4 separate regions of the Homo sapiens genome follow, and all the other regions are reported to be linked to region 1. Evidence: microRNA targets listed by miRTarBase, many of them from high-throughput screens and not tested one by one. Region 1 holds a microRNA gene; each other region holds the end of a gene's coding sequence.

Region 1 (5,073 bases):
AGCTGCATAACCAGGAGTAACTATAACCTGAGCATAAAAGAAATAATAACATAGTCAAAAAATCAAATATTACTGAGGGAAAAATTAGATTACAACTTTTAAAAAACAAGTAACCTGGCATAAGTATAAAACATCTTTGGTATCTGAAACTATTAGTATTTATCATACATGCACTTTGCATGTTTTTTGTTTTGGTTTATTACAAAATATGAATTAAAACATCTTAACTACTTAAAATAACAATGTTAAAATTTATTATTAATTACTTTATGAAATTTGGTTTATGTACTGTGTTACTTACCAAAGCAAACACAATTTGGCTTGTAATAAGAAGGTACTGCATGTTTTCTATGTAGAAAATTAAATACATTAAAAGGAGAATTAAAATGAAGAAGCTGACGTCCACTAGTGCCTGCCCACACCAGTAAGCAGAAGTGTAGAGGCCTGAAATCCATAGCTGGGACTTAGCATTTTTCTGATTAAAAAAAAAAAGAAAGAAAGAAATGTATATAGATTCAATTAAAATGCAAATCTAAAATAAACACAAACACATTGGAAGAATTTTTAAGATAAATATAATCTAATCTTCTAATATTAAAAAAAATTATGCATATACTGCTTAGTAACATGAGGCTTATAGAGCCAGTTCCATGGTTTACAAGGTGTCTATCAAAAATAAAATGTATACTGTGATAGGCCTGACTCATAACACAACTTTAGCTCATGAATAATGAAAAGTGGACCTCATAATGTTCAAGGCATTAAACTCTATAAAAATAAGTATTGGCCAGCATGGTGGCTCACGCCTGTAATCCCAGCACTTTGGGAGGCCAAGGCGGGTGGATCACAAGGTCAGGGGATTGAGGCCATCCTGGCTAACATGGTGAAAGCCCATTTTGACTAAAAACACAAAAAGTAGTTGGGCATGGTGGTGCAAGCCTGTAATCCCATCTACTCAGGAGGCTGAGGCAGAAGAACTGCTTGAACCCGGGAGGCGGAGTTTGCAGTGAACCGATTTTGCACCATTGCACTCCAGCCTGGGCAACAGAGTGAGACTCCATCTCAAAAAAAAAAAAAAAAAAGTATTATTTTGTGACCTGGAGGACATAATACATTTACCTTTACCTAAACATCTTGGAGAGTTTCTGGCTCAGGATGGTGAACGTTGATAGATTTAACTGCTTTGTCTGAATAATGGGCATAATCGAATACAAATATAACATAAAATTGCAATTTCCAGAGTGGAAAAGGAATTCAAGTCTTAAATTTGGCCTTTGATTTCAACATCAATGATTTCCTTCTTGTGGCTGGGAAATAATGTGGTCAAAAGATTTATAATATTTCCCTTTGAAGGTTTAGACTAATTGGAGTCTCTGAAAAATCACTGTACTTTTCAGGTGACTTTGGAATAAAAAGCATTTTGAGTTTTTAGAAGTAAATTATCTGACTTGCCAAGAATAAGGTTTAGCTACAATATCTAAATTAAACATACATTCAAATGTTTTTGTCAGAAGAAAACATTTTGAACACATAGCATTCAAAATACAGATATTGAAATTCCTGAAATTTCTTCTTTTCCCTGCTTTTTCTTACCTTGTAATCACTGATGCTGCCCATGGTGATATAAGGAGAAATGCTACATAGAACCAAAAATAAGAAAAAGGAACCATCCGGCAACCCAGTCCAGAGTCCTATGTGGCTCTGAAAATATAAAGGGTAGCTTAAACTAGTGAATATTTGTTAAATGAAACAAATAATTATAGCCACAAAAATGCACTTTTTGAAATGTTGAAAAATCAAAGTAAAGGTGTAGCTCATTACCATCTAGGCACGAAGGTGGGAGGGAAAGTGACTCTGATCTTCAACTCAAAGAACAAAGAGAAGTCAAAAGTCATTTAGGACCTACTTCTGGGGATATTTCCAAAAGAATTGAAAGCAAGCTCTCGAAGAGATACCCTCACATTCATATTCATACCAACAATACTCACAAGTGGAAGCAACCCAAAAGTCCAAATTAATGGATTAACAAAATGTGTATGTATATACAAACAATGGATACTATTCAACCTTAAAAAGGATCACTTGAGGTCAGGAGTCTGAACCAGCCTGACCAACATGGTGAAACCCCATCTCTACTAAAAATACAAAATCAGCCAGGTGTGGTGGTAAATGTCTGTAATCCCAGCAACTTGGGAGGCTGAGGCAGGAGAATCGCTTGAATCTGGGAGGCAGAGGTTGCAGTGAGCAGAGATCGCCCCATTGCACTGCAGCCTGAGCAACAAGAACAAAACTCGGTCTCAAAAAAAAAAAAAAAAAAAAAAGAAGGAAATCCTGTCACATGCTACAACATAGACGAACCTGGAAAATATGCTAAGTGAAATAAACCAGTTACAAAAAGACAAATATTCCACTTATATAAGGTTTCTAAACTAGTAATATTCATAGAAACATAATAGGATGGTTATTTCCAGGGGATGGGGGAGGGGGAAAGCTAATTGGCATCGAGTTTCAATTCCGCAAGACGGCAAAGTTCTGGAGATGCATTTCACAACAATGTGAATATACTTAATACTACTCAACTGTACACTTGCAAACAGCTAAAATGGTCAATTTTATATCATGTATTATTACCACAACAAAAAAACAATAATTCAGAAGTTAGGACCTCTGATGAACATATAATTCAGGCCTGAGTAGCACGTCTTTCTGAGCAAACCCAGAGATGGAAACCTCAGTAGCTGGGTGGATGTGTTCTGAAGCACAGAACCAAGAAGAAAACTTGTTGCTGCTTGTCTTAACTTCAGGGAAAGGAACTTTAAATCACTACCCCCAAATCAGCATCCACTTGAGGCTAGGCCAAGTGGACACTCTAGCAGCATCTAGGACCACCTCATGGATATAATTACAGGATAACAGCATGAGCCTGTCTCAAAATAATTCCACAATTATTTAACTTTATTTAAGACTTTGAGGGCTATGTCTATAAATTCTGTTTTTCATCATAGGAATGAGGGAGGAAAGGTGTGTGCCATGGGGAAGTGGGAGTGGGGAACAGGTTTCTAATAGAGTAGCTATGGGCTTCAGTCCATTTTGATCCTGAGCAAACACAATGGCATTAGGAAGCTAATAATTCAGAAGTTAGGACCTTTGATGAACACATAATTCAGGCCTGAGCAGCATGTCTTTCTGAGCAAACCCAGAGATGGAAACCTCAGTAGCTGGGTGGATGTGTTCTTTTGAAGGATAGCAGCATAAGCCTGTCTCAAAATAATTCTGCAGTGAGACAGGTTCATGCTGCTATCGTTCCAAAGAGGAAGGGTAATCACTGTCTCTTTCTGCTACTCCTCTGGTTCCACTTTCTGGAGAATTCCCTTCAGACACCCCTTCCCTCGAGTCATCCTGTGCAGCAGACCTGTTTACGTGATCAGTCGGTCATACTCAACTCACGGAGGTATGTGTCTGTCACGAACATCTCAAGTACTGTATATTTCATCCCCATTGTTCCCATGGCTTACAGAAAACCTGTGCTTGCATATACTCCCAGCACCACTGATTCAGTGAAGCCAAAACTGAGCTTCACACTTTTGTCACAAAATGGACTTCCCTTTGGATGGCTTCATTTCTAATCCTGCTTCTTGATGTTTCAGACTTCTGGTGTGAAACAGTTGGAGTCAGCTTTGAGACACCCCTGTTGGTATCAGGCAGGGTCTAACCAGAAAACCATGACTACGTTAAGTTCTTAGAGTGCAATTCCTTATGACATGGTTAGGTGGGTGATGAGCATCCCACAAAGATGGTGAAGTGAGAAGCAAGCTATTGTTGCTTCTGGGCTTCAGGAACAGCAGAAGGAGGTGATGTGACTGGAGCCCAATGTAGGGGGTCCTCTGCTCTTCTGTCTCCCACCACTGCTTTCTAGTGTCCAAACTGTCTGAAGCCAGACTATAGCCAACTGACACAGAATCCAATGCAGCCTGTGTGTATTAGGCTCCCTCACAACATAGAGCAACTATGAGTAGGTGAATAAATAAATCAACAGATAGCCCCAGAACTGGCAGATTCTCCTTCATATTAGTCTGTCTACTACACATTTAGTCAATGGAGGGTCCACTAACTAATTATAATAGATTTATATGTAACCAGGGTTACAAGTTCTCCTGATTTCCAAGTCAGTGTTTTCTTTTTTCTGTTTCTCTTTCTCATACACTTCCACAATCAAGTATGTACAACTTTTCAAAACATTGCCTAGAAGACTGACAAAATATTGAAAAGTATTCCCTCACGATAATTATCTGATAACTTGGCAGGAAAAAAAAATCCTGTTTTGTTTGCTATAACCCATTGAAAATATTAGGATAAAATAATAATTTTCAGGCTTAACAATCACTTATGGATATTTAAAAGCTAAAGAGAGAAAACATAGGCTATTTGTCCAATTCTTAATTGTTTAGACTCAGTAAATCCAATACTTACAAGAGGAAATGGGCTTGACTCAATTCGAATATGTTGTGTGTGATTAAACATTTGAAGTAGCCCATTGCTGATAATATTCATAAGAATTGGAAAACAGTGCAATCTCTTGGTATTACACACAACTGAAAATCTATAATCCTTAAAACAGAAACAAATAAATAATGTTAATGCTAAATTCTTAAAGAACAAAGGCAAGGTTTATGTATAAAAGATCCTAACAGTGCCACATGCTTGTTGTGTGTCCATCTTCAAGTGAACTAAACTTTCTGAGCTTTACCTTCCTCATCTATGAAAAGGAAATACTAAATGGGTTGTTATAGGGCTTAAATGACACTCTATTCATGTACATTAAGCTCTAGCACAGAGTCAGCATACAATCAATATGAATTTTTATTTGTATTACTAATTTTAGATAATTTTGTCTCCATTTTGCTGATGGGGAAATTTCATTTAGTAGAGTTTAAAAGTCTCCCTGACAAGGAGATGCTGTCAGTTTATGATGAAGAAGCAAAGGAAGATTGGGCATGGTGGCTCACACCTGTAATTCTAGCACTTTGGGAGGCCAAGGCGGGCAGATCACTTGAGGTTAGGAGTTTGAGACTA
Region 2 (5,073 bases), not on the chromosome of region 1:
ACCAGGACCCCACACTGCATTTAGTTGTCACGTCTCCCCAGGCTTCTCTTGGCTATGAAGGACCCTCCTTGTCTGTGATGACCTTAGGTCGGCAGTGTTAGGGAGCGCTGCTTGGGGTATACTGTAGCATGCTGAGCGGGGCTGAGGCTCGGATGAGGGGAGCTCAGTCTGACCAGGCTCTGGAAGGAGCCGTCGCGCTGGAGCCAGAACCTGGCTTCCTGGGCCTGAGCCCCCTCACACAGGGACAGCGCCTCTGCTCAGTGTGCCCTCCCATTCCCTCGCAGGCAAGGGGATCAGGCGAGTGAAGCCGAAGCGCACCACATCCTTCTTCAGCCGGCAGCTGTCCTTGGGCCAGGGGAGCTACACCGTGGTGCAGCCCGGCGACAGCCTGGAGCAGGGCTGAGGACGCTGCACCCGGCAGGAGGAGGGCGACTGGGGGCCCTGGCCCGGCACTGTCCTCCTGAGGGGCAGGCGCCGGCTGCAACAGTCTCATGGGTCACCACGTGGGGAGGGCTGCCTCAGCAGGTTTCTCAGACCACGGAGAAGTGACTTTTGGGCCCGGGGCCATGCCCGGGCTGTGCAAAGCTGGCCAGGGCCTCCTGTAGGGCTCCTCTGCAGCCTGCCCTCCCTTCCCCCGGATGCTGGGCCCTGCTGCTCTCTCAGGACCATCCGATCAAGCTGCAGCTGCCACCCTCACCTAGAAACATGCCTTTGTGCCCACCTCAAGATGGGCAGTGTCCCTGTTCTGAAGTGCCCAGTGGCAGCTCCAGTGGTAGAGGACCAAGGATTGAGGTTTGGGACCTGAAGCTCCAGTGTGTGCCTTTGGCCTCTTCCCTGGACTTGGGTGACCAGTCTCCGTCTTCCTCCTGCTAGTGCTCCACCCCCCGGACTTGGATGACCAGTTTCCCACCTTCCTCCTGCTGGTGCTCCATCCCCCAATACCAGGCTGGGCCACCACTCTGAGGAGGGTAGGAGGGGCCTCCCTGGATTGAACCGGGACAGAAACACGGTGAGGGCCCCCACCACACCTCCCTGGTTGAATCAGGAATGGAGGGAGCCAGGCAGGGCCCTACCTGGGGTCCTGTGCCCCTCGTTCTGGTCTCCTTTGCAGGCACGAGATACCAGAAAGAGCATGCCTTTCTGATAGCCTTTGGTGATGTCACTGCTGGGAGGTGGCTATCCTGTGGACCACCTGGCCTCCAGACCCACACTCACAGTCTGTGAAAAACTGAAAATCCCCTGGTGGGCACTCCCTGGAGCCCAAGCAGCTCCCCTAGGGGACTGACCGGACCTGACCTCCCCTCCCTGTGTCTGGGTCTTCAGGTTTTAGTTTGGTCTTTGTTCATCTGAGTTGTGCTGGGGCAACGCCAGGAAGTGCCCTGGGTACCTCTGCTGTGCGCTCCTTCCCAGGTGGCGCCATGGATTCCTCTGGGGGCTGGCGCATGCCCAGGAAAGCCTGGGCCACACGGGACACTCTCTTCTTTATCGAGGACACTTGGAAAGGTGACTGATATGGGTGCTTGGCTTCTCTGGTCCCAGCTTGCCCTCCGGGGAGCAGGGGCTCTGTCTTGTCCCAGATGAGCTGAGAGCCCCTGAGAGGAGGGCTTTCCCAGCCCTGGGACCCTCCGAGGTGGGTGTGCGGGTCTCACAGGTGCTTCCTGGGACTTCCTGTGGCTGCACAGGGCTTGGCTTTGTCTTCGTTCCCGGTGGAAAACCGTGGGAGAGGAAGCTTGGGCCTCTACTCCAAGTATCAGAGCCTGTTCACCCTCCTCCCTTTGGTAGCTTGTGAATGTGCCAGGTGTTTCGAGGTAGGCTTGCCTTCTGGCAGCATGGACTTTGTTAAAATAATAGGCGGAAAGAAGAGGCCTGGGAAGGGCCCCCAGTCTTTTGGAATGTCCTGGTCACAGGGTCATGTCAGCTGCCAGTTCTCGTCTCCCGTCCTGGAGTTGCTCGGTCTTGCGGAGCTGCCCGCCTGCCTGTTCTGGCGGCTCCAGCGCAGGCTGTCCCTGCTGCTTTGATTCCAGGTGATTTTATTTTTTTTATTTTTTTATTTTTTTTGAGACGGAGTCTTGCTCTGTTGCCCAGGCAGGAGTGCAGTGGCGCATCTCGGCTCACTGCAACCTCTGTCTCAAGCGATTCTCCTGCCTCAGCCTCCTGAGTAGCTGGGATTACAGGTGCATGCCACCAGGCCCCGCTGATTTTTGTATTTTTAGTAGAGATAGGGTTTCACCATGTTGGTCAGGCTGGTCGTGAACTCCTGACCTCATGATCTGCCCGCCTCAACCTCCCAAAGTGCTGGGATTATAGGCGTGAGCCACCGCCCCCAGCTGATTCCAGGCGAATTCTTCTCTGATGGGCGGGCGAGGGTGTGTTCGTGTGATGGGTTGGAGTGTGTGTGTCTGAGTACACAGATGATGTGTTTTCCCTTCAGCTTCTTACGTTTTCTGAGCATCCATTGTGCCTTAACATTTTCTGCTTGTCCTTTGGGACAAAGCAGTATTTTACTCATTCTTTGAATGTTCTCATTCTTTTGTATCATGTGACTTATTAAAATCAGTTTCTAACAAACTCTGGGGCAGCTCATGATATGAAATAATGAGGGTGTGTCCGTGACAGTCCAAGAGTTGATTACAGGCTGCATGTTTGGTTTTCATGAAACGTACGTCAAGGTGTGCAGCCCTCAGGCCAGCCAGGTTGATGCCCACGGAGCACCCGAGTGAAGCTGTCTCATCTTGGCGGCTTGTACTCCCAGCCCCACGTTGCCCAGGAGGGGCTCTGGGGTTCCTGTGGGGACCAAGGTGGGTAACTGCAGATGCTCATGCCCTTCCTGAGGGCACCTCATGCTCCAGGCCTGGCAGGAGGCCGTTTGTTTCCCACAGATCCTGCTGTCAACACCTACCTGGGAGGGAAGGGACAGTAGCAGACCCCTGGAGGACTCTGAGCCCTGCAGCAGCCACCCAGGACCTGGGCCTGCAGGATGAGCGCCACTGGGGGATTGGGGTTCACAATGTTTCCAGAGATGGGAGGAGTAAGCCACCTGTCCCTGTGGCAGCGTAGTCCTGGGAACAGGGCCGTCTCCTTGGGTGTCCATGACAGTGAGTGGCACCTTGTCCTCTGTGTGATCATCTTTGCCTGGCAAGGCAGCACAATGCCATGACCATGGGCACCTGTGACCTTTCGTGGGAATAACAGTGCCCAGGCCAGGCACAGTGGCTTGCTACTGTAATCCCAGCACTTTGGGAGGCCAAGGCGGGAGGGTCACTTGAGCCTAGCCTGGGCAACATGGCGAAACCCCATTGCTACAAAAACAAAAAAAATTAGCCAGGCATGGTGGCACAAGCCTGTCGTGCCCAGCTGCTTGGGAAGCTGAGACTAGAGGATCGCCTGGGCCCAGGAGGTCGAGGATACAGCGAGCTGTGTTCACACCACTGTGCACTCCAGCCTGGGCAACAGAGCAAGACCCTGTCTCGAAAAAAAAAAAAAAATTCCGAAAAAACAACTCACTTCGGCCAGGTGCAGTGGCTCACGCCTGTAAACCCAGCACTTTGGGAGGCCAAGGCGGGCGGATAACCTGAGGTCGGGAGTTTGAGACCAGCCTGACCAACGTGGAGAAGCCCTGTCTCTACTAAAAATACAATATTAGCTAGGCATGGTGGCGCATGCGTGTAATCCCAGCTACTGGGGAGGCTGAGGCAGGAGAATCGCTTGAACCCGGGAGGCGGAGGTTGCAGTGAGCCGAGATCGTGCCATTGCACTCCAGCCTGGGTGACAGAGCAAAACTCTGTCTCAAAAAAAAAAAAAAAGTAAACTGATTGTCTCACAGTTCTGGGGGCTACAAGTCCAAAATCCAGGTTTCAGCTCAGCAGGGCCGTGCTCCCTCTGCAACCCATAGGAGAGGCCTTCCTTGCCTGCTCCTAGCTTCTGGTGCCTTGCTGGCCGTTCAGGCATTCATTGGCTTGCGGCTGCACAGCCAGTCTCTGCCTATGTGGTCATCTGGCATCTTCCTTAGTGTCTGTGTCTTCACATGGCTGTGTTCTTACAAAGACACCAGTCAGATTAGACTAGGGGCCCACCCTACTCCACCATGAGCTCATCTTAACTAATAACACCTGCAATGATCCTGTTCCCACATCATGTCACATTCTGATGCACTGAGGGTTAGGACTTCGACATATCCTTTTGGGGGAACACGATTTAACCCTTACCACTACCCTACAGATGATTGTCTTGGACTTCTTTGGGGTTCTTTAATGCCGGAACAGCTGTTATTTTCAAATCCTAGCTACGCTTGGGTTGCACGGGGCAGCAGGAGTGACTTTGCCACCTGCCAGCCTGGCACGCACAGCCTGGCTCAGCCAGCACCTGGATCCAGAGGCCTGAAGACCTGAAGAGGCTCTGCCCAGACTGCCCCTGAGGACAGTGCAGTGGGACGAGGTCTTCACAGTCCCCAGTCCCCAGACTCTCCCTAACTCTTCAGAATGCAGGAAGCAGAGGTGACCAGAACAGTCAACACATGCGATCCTACTGTCCCTTCTGAGGCTGGGGTTTCCAGGTCATTCTCCACTTACAGCAGCAGCTGGGGCATTCCTGCGGGCTTCCCAACCCGGGGCTAGCTGGACACAGGAGGCTCCAGCCACAACCAGAGCCCAGCAAGAGGCTTGCGCAGACCCACAGCTGAGGCTTCATGTGGCCAGCCCCCAGCCAAGTGGCAGTGCATGGAGAGACACACGGGAGGCCAGAGGTGCTGCTGGGACTCAGAAAAGCCACAGCGACCAAGGCGACCCAGGACGCTGTCATGCTCAGTCTGAAAAAACAGTGGTGCAAGGGGCACAGATAAAGCTGGGAAGGAGAGGGCTGGGGTGGATGTGCCAGGGGCCTCTGACACTTGTCAGGGAGCAGGAGTTCCAACTGCTCCCCGCACACAGGGTTGCAGGATTAGCAACAGAGTTACCCATGGAGACATCAGCTCAGAGTCCAGGCAGCTTTTCAGATGACACCGGGGATAAGAACATAAAGACCAGGAAAATGGGTCACTTTGCACACACATGATGCCCCAACAGATGTGCAGGCCAC
Region 3 (5,073 bases), not on the chromosome of region 1:
CCAGTTCCCAGACCATGCTTTGAGTAGCAAGGCCCTAAAGCTGCACTGTCCTATCTGGTCGCTGCTAGTCACCTGCAGCAATTTAACTTAGCAAGGAGAATGAAATAAAAGGAACAATTCAGTGCCTCAGTCGCATGGGCCACATTTCAAGTGATGAGCAGCCCATGTGGCCAGTGGCTGGTGTGTTGGACTGTGCAGGTGTACAGCACGTTCATCGCAGGAAGTTCTTGGAGGGTGGGCATGGTGCCTCACGCCTGTAATCCAAGTGCTTTGGGAGGCCGAGTCACGAGGATCTCCTGATCCCAGGAGTTTGAGACCAGCCTGGGCAGCATAGTGAGAGCCCCGTCTCTATACAAGAAAAGAAAGTTCTCGAGGATGGCGCTGCCCTGAGGTTTGGAGTAGGAGTTAACCAGACAGCTGGGGGAGGAGAGAATGGGCTTCTGCCTCAGGCTCAGCGCACACGAAGGCCACTGCAAGAGCTAGGAGGAGGACCATGGAATTTGAGTGCAAAGAGTAAGGAGGGAGTGAGACTGGAGACAGGGCCGGGGACTCCCTGGGCTGTGGCGGCCTTAGGGCCATGCAAGGGCCTCAGGCCAGGGGAGCCCCTGATGGGTCTGTGGCAGGCTGGGCTCCATCTGGGGAGATGGGAGTGTGGGGAATTCGGTAGTGCTTTTCTCTTCATGGCGTCACTTGCTTTTCCCTTTGCATCGGCCTGGGGCCCTGGGGCCTGATTTGCAGCATCAACAGCTTTTCCACTGCTGTGTGTCAGCCCAAGGGCCTTGTCACTGTGAGAGGGTAACGTGTGCCACGCCCTTCCTCCCCAGGGGCTCCATGTCCAGCCTGGAATCCTGCACCAGCGGCTTCTCCCAGCTCAGCGCCGCCACCTCGTCCTCCTCCTCCGGCCAGTCTCATAGCAGCTCCCTGGTCTCCAGATAGCCGGGCCCAGTGTTTCAGGGCCGCCCGCTCGCCTCCAGTGTCCAGAAATGTCCAGAATGAGAAGCCAGCTAACTGCAGGGCCTGGGACCATGTGGGCTGGAGCCCCAGGCCTAGATGCTGCCCAAGTTGGGGTGTCTGGAGCGGATGGCAAGGATCCAGAACTGGCCTGTGGGTGGTGTCAGGGCTCTTGAAATTGCAAGGACAGAACCATCTCCTTCCGGCTTCGTGTAAGGAAGACCAAGCCAAGGCCAAGGTGTCTACCATACCACACCTTTGGGACATCCGGGCTTAGCGACGTCAGCCAGGCCCATCTCCTCTCTGTCCACCTCTTGCTCTGCTTTCGCCATGCAGGGGACCATCACTATCAGGTGCCCTTCTCCTCCCTGCAGCTTGCCTGCATAAGAGAGCCTCTTCCTCCCAAAGGCTCCAGCCCACTTCCCAGAGCTGAGTCTTAGCCTGGAAGGGGGAGCGATTGCCAGGTCAATTCCTGAACCAATCACAGTTGCCAGGCACACTGGAGAATGCTGATTGGCCAGCAGGGTCATGCCCAATCTGGACCAATCACCGTGATCCAGGGTTGCAGTGAGGTGCAGTGATTGGCCAGCCTGGATCACATGCACATCTCTGGAACCAACCACCTGCTCTCAAAAGCACTAGTGGGTGCCTCGAGGAGTACTGGGGTCCCCCCTAAGAAGAAGGAGGAAGGATGCTGGGGAGGCAGAAATGAAGGGTGTTTACCTTGGCATCTGATTGCATAACGTTCTGTTATGCAGTATCAAGATGTGCTTGGTGAGCAGTTAAGTGAGTTACAGGCGCTGCTCTTTGTGGGGAACAGCACATCCTGAAGTGAAAATCCATGTTCCCTGCACTTGGCCAGCATGGCCTAAGCCTGACCATCCCTGATTGGAGAGGGTGGGAGAGCCCTGGGTTTCTGCTAAGTTCCAGGCAGTGATGGGGTGACTGAGGCTGTCTGTATACCCCACTGGAGATGCCTTTCTCTCCTAGGGAACTGTTTAATTATGACTGTTTTTGGTTGTAAGCCACAGAGACCCATGCCCAGGTGCTTCAACACAAAAGCATGATCATTCATGGGTGCATAGAACTGGCCAGTCCAGGAGGGCTTGCTTCAGGTAAGGCTAGATCCAGGGTCTCAACATGGAGTCTCGATTCCCCCCGCGAGTGGAGGCTGCTGTGTTTGCCCTGGGGCAGATATGACTCTGGAACTAGGTTCAATATTGACATGAGTTCCCCTAGTTACTACACAGGAGCGTCTTGGGTCTCCTTGGGGCCTGAGGACATTTCTCCTTTCCTTTCCTGGACTCCCCAAAAGGCAGCCAGTCAGGGGTCACCAACTTGAAGCCTGATCTGGCCTGCTTTTAGTGTTGCTTTTTTGCCTTTAGAATGGTTTAAAAATTGAGGCATTTCGCATCGAAATCAGGATTTCTGGCTTCCCTTAGGCATTTGGGAGCACCAGCAGAATGGGGTCACTATTGTTGCATGAAGACAACACCTCTGCACCCCTGGATGTGGCCACGCCAGTCCCTACCCCATTGACTTGCGCCCAGCCCACATTACACATCCTCATGACCTGCGTGGCAGGAGTCTCACTGACATGGCTCTGTCAGCAGTGGCTGGTACCCTTGTCTCCTGGCCTTGCTTAGAGTTGGGGCTCATCTCTGCTGCAGTAACTGAGCCAAGGGGTGGTTTTGTGGCCACAAGAATCATCTTTATGCAGGCTCAGCAATGCAGGGCCAGGAAACTTATATCTACGCCAGCCTCAACCCCAAACCCAAGGAAGAGAGAAAGTGTCATCTTTTCAGATACATCCTTCTTCCTGCTGGGAGAGAGCCTTGCCCACCTTCCTGTTGGCTCTCTGTCCGCTTCTCAGGTATCTGAACAAAATAGATTGCTTTGCACTCTGCGTCAAGGTGTGTGTGCACATGTGTGCATAAGAGACCGACTGATTGGAAGGAGACGTTCTCAAAACTAATTGCTCCCATATCACCAGGCATTTATTGCTGAGAGCAACTTGCAATATTTTCAACTATCTTTAAGTGAATTTCTAGCTTTTCTCTTAAAAACTAGGTGTTATCCTACAAGTATGCTGGGATAAGCTGCCCTGGCAGTCTTTATACATTTATTGTCTAGCCCCAGAGAAGGACACAGAAGCCTTTTACGGAAGGAAGCTGGAACTGCCTGTTCCAGAGGCGGGTGGGGGGAGGGGAGTCTGCTATCAGCTGTCCACCCTTAACAGTGGGGGTGAGGAACCTCAGGCCCTTTCAGTTCTGCTCTTGAGAGTGCTCTCTCCCTAGGGAAAACCAGCCCAAACTGGCTTAAGCAACAAAGCAAATTCCCTGGGTCCTGTACTAGGGATGGCTGAAGGTGGGTGCTGCTTCAGATATGGCTGGATCCAGGAGCTTAATGTCCTCAGGCCTCTCAACTGCACCCAGGCCTCTTGACTCTGCATCTCTTTGCATGCTGACCTCATTCTTTCTTCCACCTGGCGGGAAAGATGGCTGCCAGCAGCCCCAAGCCTATAATTTCAGGATTCACACTCTAAGAGATGCTTTTCCATCTCAAATCTCATGGAAGGCTCTGATTGGCCCAGCTCGAGTCACATGCTTATTCCTGTGGGCCACACTGGCAAGGAACTAGGGTCCCGTGATTGACATTCCCTGCAGAAGCCGCAGCAGGATTGGGGAGGGCCATTCCCCCAATGGACAAGAGAAGCTGGACCACAGAACCAGCAGGTATCCATGGTGGCATCTGCTACGGCCGGCTCTCCTCCCATGTGGAGGTCTCGGGGACCCACGTGGAAGCATTATCAAGGTCATTCTTCTTGCCTTCGGGAGGACTGGAATTAAAAATAATCCAAGGAAGGGATTGCCAAGCTTTTGGCTTTTGAATTTCCCCTGAGCCACAAAGGCTGGAAGTGCCTTGGCTTGGGCTTCTTGCATCATTAGTTCATTAATCCATTGTGACCAGGACAGAAGCAACCCACAAGCAGCATTACTGTTGGTGTTTGGGCACCTGGGCCTTGAATTTAGGCCAGGACTCAAACCCCAGCCTTCCTTTCACTAGCTGTGTAACCTTGACCAGGTGACTTAACCTCTCTGTGCCTCAGTTTCCTCATCTGTAAAGTGAGGATAGCAGTGCCTACCTCAATAGGTTGTAGTGGGACGAAATGAGGGAGTAGCTGTAAAGCTTTCAGCACAGCTCCCAGAACACAGAAAGCGCTCCATTAATGTCAGTGGTCATTCTGATTACTTAATGCTTCGCATCCAAAGACTCGTTTTCTTCCTGAGGTCGCCTATCCCTGTTTTTCGTTATTGCACCCAGAGAAAAGTAGGTGTCAAGAATTATTGCCCTCTGAGTTGGGTGTGCAGTCTTTCTCTTTTAGAAACTGCTTGTGTGGGCGGGGCGTGGTGGCTCATGCCTATAATCCCAACACTTTGGGAGGCTGAGGCCGGCTGATCGCTTGAGTGCAGGAGTTCAAGACCAGCCTGGGCAACATAGTGAGACCCTGTCTCTACAAAAAATTAAAAAATGAGCCAGGCGTGGTGGTGCGTGCCTATAGTCTCAGCTGCTCGGGAGGCTGAGGCAGAAGGATTGCTTGGAGGTCAAGGCTGGAGTGAGCCATGATCTCACCCCTGTACTTCATCCTGGGTGACAAAGCAAGACCCTGTCTCAAAAAAAGAAGAAAGAAGCTGCTTGTGTTTTCTGGGTAAGTCCACCCATCTGAGGGAGTGTATTCTGAGTGGTATTTCCCTTGGCAGTTAGAAAATGTTTTTTCCCAGAGGTTGAAGTATGGAGAGTTTGAGACTCTTTTTTTCTACCCTGCACTCTCTGGAATTCCCCCTCCCTGCTGTAAAATTTATTGTCCAATGAGAATAGTATAATTGTTTTCAACAAAGTCTCTTTGAGCCAGTGAAACACGATGGGTTTTTTTGTTTGCCTGATCACTTGCTCCAACCAGCAGCATTAAATGTTTTCCATTTGGATAAACTTGCATCGTCAGCTTCCTAAAACCCTGGAGGTTTCCCGTGGGCTCGTTCAAGAACTTTCCAGCTGTTGTTTAAAAGACTTTAGAGCTAGCTTGTTCAGCCTGTGGCCTGCAGGCTGCACGCGGCCCCGGAC
Region 4 (5,073 bases), not on the chromosome of region 1:
CATGTAATATTAAAAAACCATTAATGATTTGGTGAAAATTCTTAAATCATCATAGTTATGTCTGTTACCTGAGTTGTTCTTTTCAAATTTATTTTTCTCTTTCTTAGGTAATACGAGGAAATAGTATCATCATGTTAGAAGCCTTGGAACGAGTATAAATAATGGCTGTTCAGCAGAGAAACCCATGTCCTCTCTCCATAGGGCCTGTTTTACTATGATGTAAAAATTAGGTCATGTACATTTTCATATTAGACTTTTTGTTAAATAAACTTTTGTAATAGTCAAAAATGCTTTCTCAGATGTTCTGAATATAGAATATCAGCTCTCATTCCAGTTTTTTCTAACATGAATTTTCCTGGTTGACATTGATTTCAAAGGGTTTTATGCATTAAAGTGAAAGAATCTTATTAAATGTGAAACATGGCAAGGATTCCTTCTGTCCATCATCTTTCAACACTGAACAGATAAAGAAGTTACAAACATGAGTGAGTTTCTTCTAAAACACTAATTTTCAAAACTTGTAAGAATAGTAACTTTGATCTAGCCTGACTTTCCCAAGTACATCTACATTCCAAATATAGTACAACAGAAGCAAAAGACAAGAAGTAATGATGTAGTTGTTTATTTTGAATATAATCATGAAGTGGGGAAAAATTTTAATACAAGAGTAGAAAGAGGATTCCAGAGAAAAACATTCCAGTGTATCATGGTTCTTTGTGAGTGAGTAGAGAGGGGTAGTGAGGATGCTGTCCACAATGTATTCATCTAGTTAATGAATTGTATGGCCCACAAGCTCAAACGAGAGATACATTACAGATGGTTGTATTATAAACCTAATCTTAAGAAACCTTACCAAGCAAATGCTTAAAGACTGATTTTTTTGTGATCTGATAAAAAGCCTGCAAATCGTGAATCACTTTTAAACTGTACAGAATGGACTACACACCAGTATGGTAAAGTTCTTGTAAAACACCAAACACAATGGCTCATAGATATATACCTCTCTCACTCTTAAATGGCATTTCCTAATTATAGAAAATGTTTACAACAAAAGAACAAGAGGGATCAAACTAACAATCAATAAGGAGAACTGATGTGAAGTCCCATACACTGTTACTCCATTTTTCAGCAACTCTTTATAACTCCTTCATTGACTTGACTCCTTTACAACATACAGCTGAATTGTAGAACTAGTTCTTCAAGTGTGGTTCCTATAGTAGAACAGCAGCATCACTGGGGAACTTAATAAAATGCATCTTCTTATATCCCATAACAAACTTATTGAATAAACAGGGTGGAGCCTAGCGATGTTTTAACAAGCCCTTAAGGTAACTGATGCATGCTCAACTCAGAGAGCCACTGGAGCAGAGCTGGCTTTCATTCAGCCCCTGCATCATTTTTACCAGTCTCTTCTATTAAAAAAAAAGGTCTGGAGCAGTAAGCTCTGACAGTGTTTTTTCTTCCAATAAAACTCTTAATACTATAGTTGCATAAAACTACCTAATGCGCCCAGAGTAGCAGGTTCTGCTAGGATTTTTCTCCCAGTAAAAAAGCACTCAACACTGTAGTTGCATTAAAACTACTTGATGTCCTTGGTGTATTGATAACCTGTTTTGCTTTTGCCAAAGCAATTTCAGATGCCCTACTGGAAAATTTATCCAGAGTAGGTTTGATGTAATACCAGCAACATTTTTAATTTTTTTTTTTTCCTTTTGAGACACAGTCTCACTCTTGCCCAGGCTGGAGTGCAGTGGTGCGATCTCTGCTCACTGCAACCTCCATCTCCAGGGTTCAAGCGATTCTCGCGCCTCAGCCTCCCAAGTAGCTGGGATTACTGGCACACGCCACCATGCCTGGCTAATTTTTGTATTTTTAGTAAAGACAGGGTTTCACCATGTTGGCCAGGCTGGTCTCAAACTCCCGACCTCAAGAGATCCACCTGCCTCAGCCTCCCAAAGTGCTGGTGAGCCACCATACCCAGCCTAAACTGGTTTTTGTTTTTTTTTTCTGAGACAGAGTCTCGCTCTGTTGCCAGGCTGGAGTGCAGTGGTGCGATCTTGGCTCACTGCAACCTCCGCCTCCCGGTTGAGGCAATTCTCCTGCCTCAGCCTCCCAAGTAGCTGAGATTACAGTAGCTGGGATTACAGACATGCGCCACCATGTCCAGCCAATTTTTGTGTATTCAGTAGAGATGGGGTTTCACCATGTTGGCCAGGATGGTCTTGATCTCCTGACCTCGTGATCCGTTTGCCTTGGCCTCCCAAAGTGCTGGGATTACAGGCGTGAGCCACTGCGCCCAGCCTAAATTGGTATTATAAGTAAAAATATATCCCATTGCAAAACAAGTCTACAAATGATGGAAATTAATTAGTATTTACCAACATTTAGCATATACATAACAGTATTACTTTACAAATTGTCTTCATTAAAACCACAAAAGGAAACAAATATGAATACCTCAACATATCTGTTAAGAATAAAACTAGAAAAAAACACTCTTTTGACAAACCATGAGTTTAATCCCCTACCTATCAAATATATCTTGGCAGTTTTATCAGCATATTAACATTCACAACTGTGGTAGGGAAGAAGTCATTTTTACTCAGAACCAAAGTTTACACTATTTTGCTAAAGTAGCTAATGCCATGATCTGATGAAGGACTTTGAAGTTTCTATTCAATGGAAGGATTTTTTTTTTTTAAGATGGTCTCTGTTGCCCAGGCTGGAGTACAGTGGCATGATCATGATTCACTGCAGCCTTGACCTCCAAGGCTCAAGTGATCCTCCCACCTCAGCCTCCCGAGCAGCTGGGACCACAGGCGCGCATTACCATGCCTGGCCAACTTTTTAAAAATTTTTTGTAGAGATGGGGTTTCACCATGTTGCCCAGGCTGGTCTAGGCCTTTGTAATTTTTTAATAACACTACATGTTAAATTGGTTGCATTTACTTTTGAACTCTTAATCTTTTGCTTGTTCTGTTCTACCAGTGTCTTGACAGTTAATCATGATCTTTGCACAGTAGATGCAGAACTAGTTCTGAAGTTTTGCTGCCTGTTAATTACCATTTGGATGCTTTAAAACCCTACAGGTGATTCCAATGTGCAGCCAAGGTTGAGACCACTGTCTTAAGATTTCAGCAACCAATTTCTCACCCAGAATGCTACAGTAAATGAAACACTTAACTCTTTGGACATATGCTGGACTTGGTTAACTTTGGTGTCATTCCAAGTATTCTGTTCTAGTGCCAACTGCTCAGGAGTTATTTAAGTTGCCTCTGCTGTTAGGCTGTCTGTGCTTATTATCAAGATTACTTCTAAAGTTCTTACTAAGAGAACTGAGAAAGTTCTAAAAGAAAGATCCTTGCAAAATGGATCTGCTTTGATACAGATTGGGCTTCTTAGGACTTCTAAGGCACTAAAACCCTTTGTAGGCATTTTCACACCCACATTGGTGATTCCCAACCCTGGGTGCACATTAGAAACTTTAAATAGCTACAATGCTAAGGTCCTATCCTCAGTCTTTGAATCTGAATCTCTGGTTATGGGGGGGTCTCAGTATTTTTAAAAGCTCCTGAAGTGAGGATTTAATACTAGAATGCCAGTTTCTTAATTCAGTAGCCCATATTTGCTTTTCATTTTACTTGAGATTTTTGTTTAACATCTTCAAGTTACATTACTAAGACTTCTAAATTTCACCCCTAATCAAATCAAGACAGAAGAATCAAAAGACAACATTCTGAAAGTCAAGGCTTTAGGCATGGGCACACGTACTTCAAACCGGTATGAAATTACTAAGAGTCAGGCATAAGACACCAGCTCCCATAAATTTTATCTGACTGAAGATTATATCTAGCTGTAAAATTCAAAAGGACTACTCCCCAACTAAGATGTCTTTAAGTTCTCCCTCAGGTACTCACCTTAAAATGCTCTACAATTTTGATCAAAATCCAGCGCGCCACTCCCAGACCTACTGAATCAGAATCTTCAAGAGAGGAGCTTGAGAATCCATATGGTTTAACAAACTCCAGGTGATTATTTTTATTTACTTTTGAGACGGAGTTTTGCTCGTGTTGCTCAGGCTGAAGTGCAATGGTGAGATTGGCTCACTGCAACCACCACCTCCTAACTCCAGGTGATTCTTATTATCAGACAAGTTTAAGAAAAACTCCTAATGGATAGTGAAAGAATACTTAAGAAATTTTGGAGATGGCATAAGTGCAATAGCTATACCTTCACACTTAATTAGAACCGTGTGTTTTCCTATGACCAGCAGGGATTACTTTTATTAAACAATGATAATGGCAAAATATCTGGTTCAAAATCATCTCTGCTCAGATTTTGTTCTTTTTTGCCACTGATAGTCATTTGGAACTAGGAGGGGAAAAAGGAGTGTGTCACTTCATAGTTCAGTTTTAAGTTTCTCATATAAGCCATCCTGATCAATCATGTCTGTGTGCCCGTTCCAGCGGTGATAGGCAAGGAGTGCAGCGTTGTGGGCTGCAATGGCACTCATCTCCATGGCACTTGCTGCACACTCTATGCCATTGAGGTAATAAAGTCGATCATGGAGAATGATAGAGGGGCATTTCTCCGGGGGCTTATAGTGAGGATATGCAAGCCATGGCTTCTTCACAGCATAATCATAGGACAGAAAGAGCTTTAAAATTTGTGCTTTAGTAAGAGTTTCTTGGGAAAAGATCTTCCAAACATATGTTCCATCTGTTGATGGCTCAGGATCTTCCTTTTCTCTCACAGAGGGCACAATCCCAATACTGTTAATGAACAAATCTGAATTATCAGTGGTTAAAACTGTATTAAGGCCAAATTTATCTATGGGTCTAGAGCTAAAGATAGATGTATTCAATTCCCCCTTAACTAAAGTTGTCACTATATGTTGATAATATTGATGGAATTCCTCAATTGGAGGATCAAAGTTGAGAAAAGTAATATTCGACATTTTTCGATTCAACGGAGTGGCCACCAAGACGATGTCATAGAAGTCTGAACGAGTCTCAGTTCCAATTTGGTAGACCACTTCATACATCTTTGTTGGATTTCCTAGAGGAAATAAGG

The links. Region 1 holds the annotated microRNA hsa-miR-4524a-3p (UGAGACAGGCUUAUGCUGCUAU, at 3,244-3,265, opposite strand). A microRNA usually pairs through its seed, bases 2 to 8, with sites in the 3' UTR of a target mRNA and lowers its output. Matches are read on the target gene's strand: a 7mer-m8 pairs with bases 2 to 8, a 7mer-A1 pairs with bases 2 to 7 and ends in A, and an 8mer does both.
Region 2: the mRNA of FRMD8 is a reported target of hsa-miR-4524a-3p. Seed matches in the 3' UTR shown: 8mer at 2,124-2,131.
Region 3: the mRNA of SEC14L5 is a reported target of hsa-miR-4524a-3p. Seed matches in the 3' UTR shown: 7mer-m8 at 4,460-4,466 and 8mer at 4,619-4,626.
Region 4: the mRNA of PCYOX1 is a reported target of hsa-miR-4524a-3p. Seed matches in the 3' UTR shown: 8mer at 2,009-2,016 and 7mer-A1 at 1,714-1,720.

Annotation. Positions count from the first base shown.
Region 1 is chr17:69,096,327-69,101,399 of GRCh38, forward strand. MIR4524A (microRNA 4524a) reads right to left here and starts at 3,306; the gene lies at 3,238-3,306. It overlaps ABCA6 (ATP binding cassette subfamily A member 6), which reads right to left. Exons shown (of 39, transcript NM_080284.3): 22 at 4,471-4,608; 23 at 1,594-1,701; 24 at 302-475; 25 at 1-27. MIR4524B (microRNA 4524b) reads left to right here and starts at 3,216; the gene lies at 3,216-3,330.
Region 2 is chr11:65,410,958-65,416,030 of GRCh38, forward strand. It overlaps FRMD8 (FERM domain containing 8), which reads left to right. Exons shown (of 11, transcript NM_031904.5): 11 at 285-2,568. The coding sequence ends at 403. Among named protein-coding and RNA genes, the nearest start is that of NEAT1, 9.3 kb to the right of the region's middle.
Region 3 is chr16:5,014,035-5,019,107 of GRCh38, forward strand. SEC14L5 (SEC14 like lipid binding 5) reads left to right here. Exons shown (of 16, transcript NM_014692.2): 16 at 825-5,073. The coding sequence ends at 936. Among named protein-coding and RNA genes, the nearest start is that of NAGPA-AS1, 17 kb to the right of the region's middle.
Region 4 is chr2:70,276,719-70,281,791 of GRCh38, reverse strand. PCYOX1 (prenylcysteine oxidase 1) reads right to left here. Exons shown (of 6, transcript NM_016297.4): 6 at 607-5,058. The coding sequence ends at 4,400. It overlaps SNRPG (small nuclear ribonucleoprotein polypeptide G), which reads left to right. Exons shown (of 4, transcript NM_003096.4): 4 at 108-430. The coding sequence ends at 158. Among named protein-coding and RNA genes, the nearest start is that of SNRPG, 14 kb to the left of the region's middle.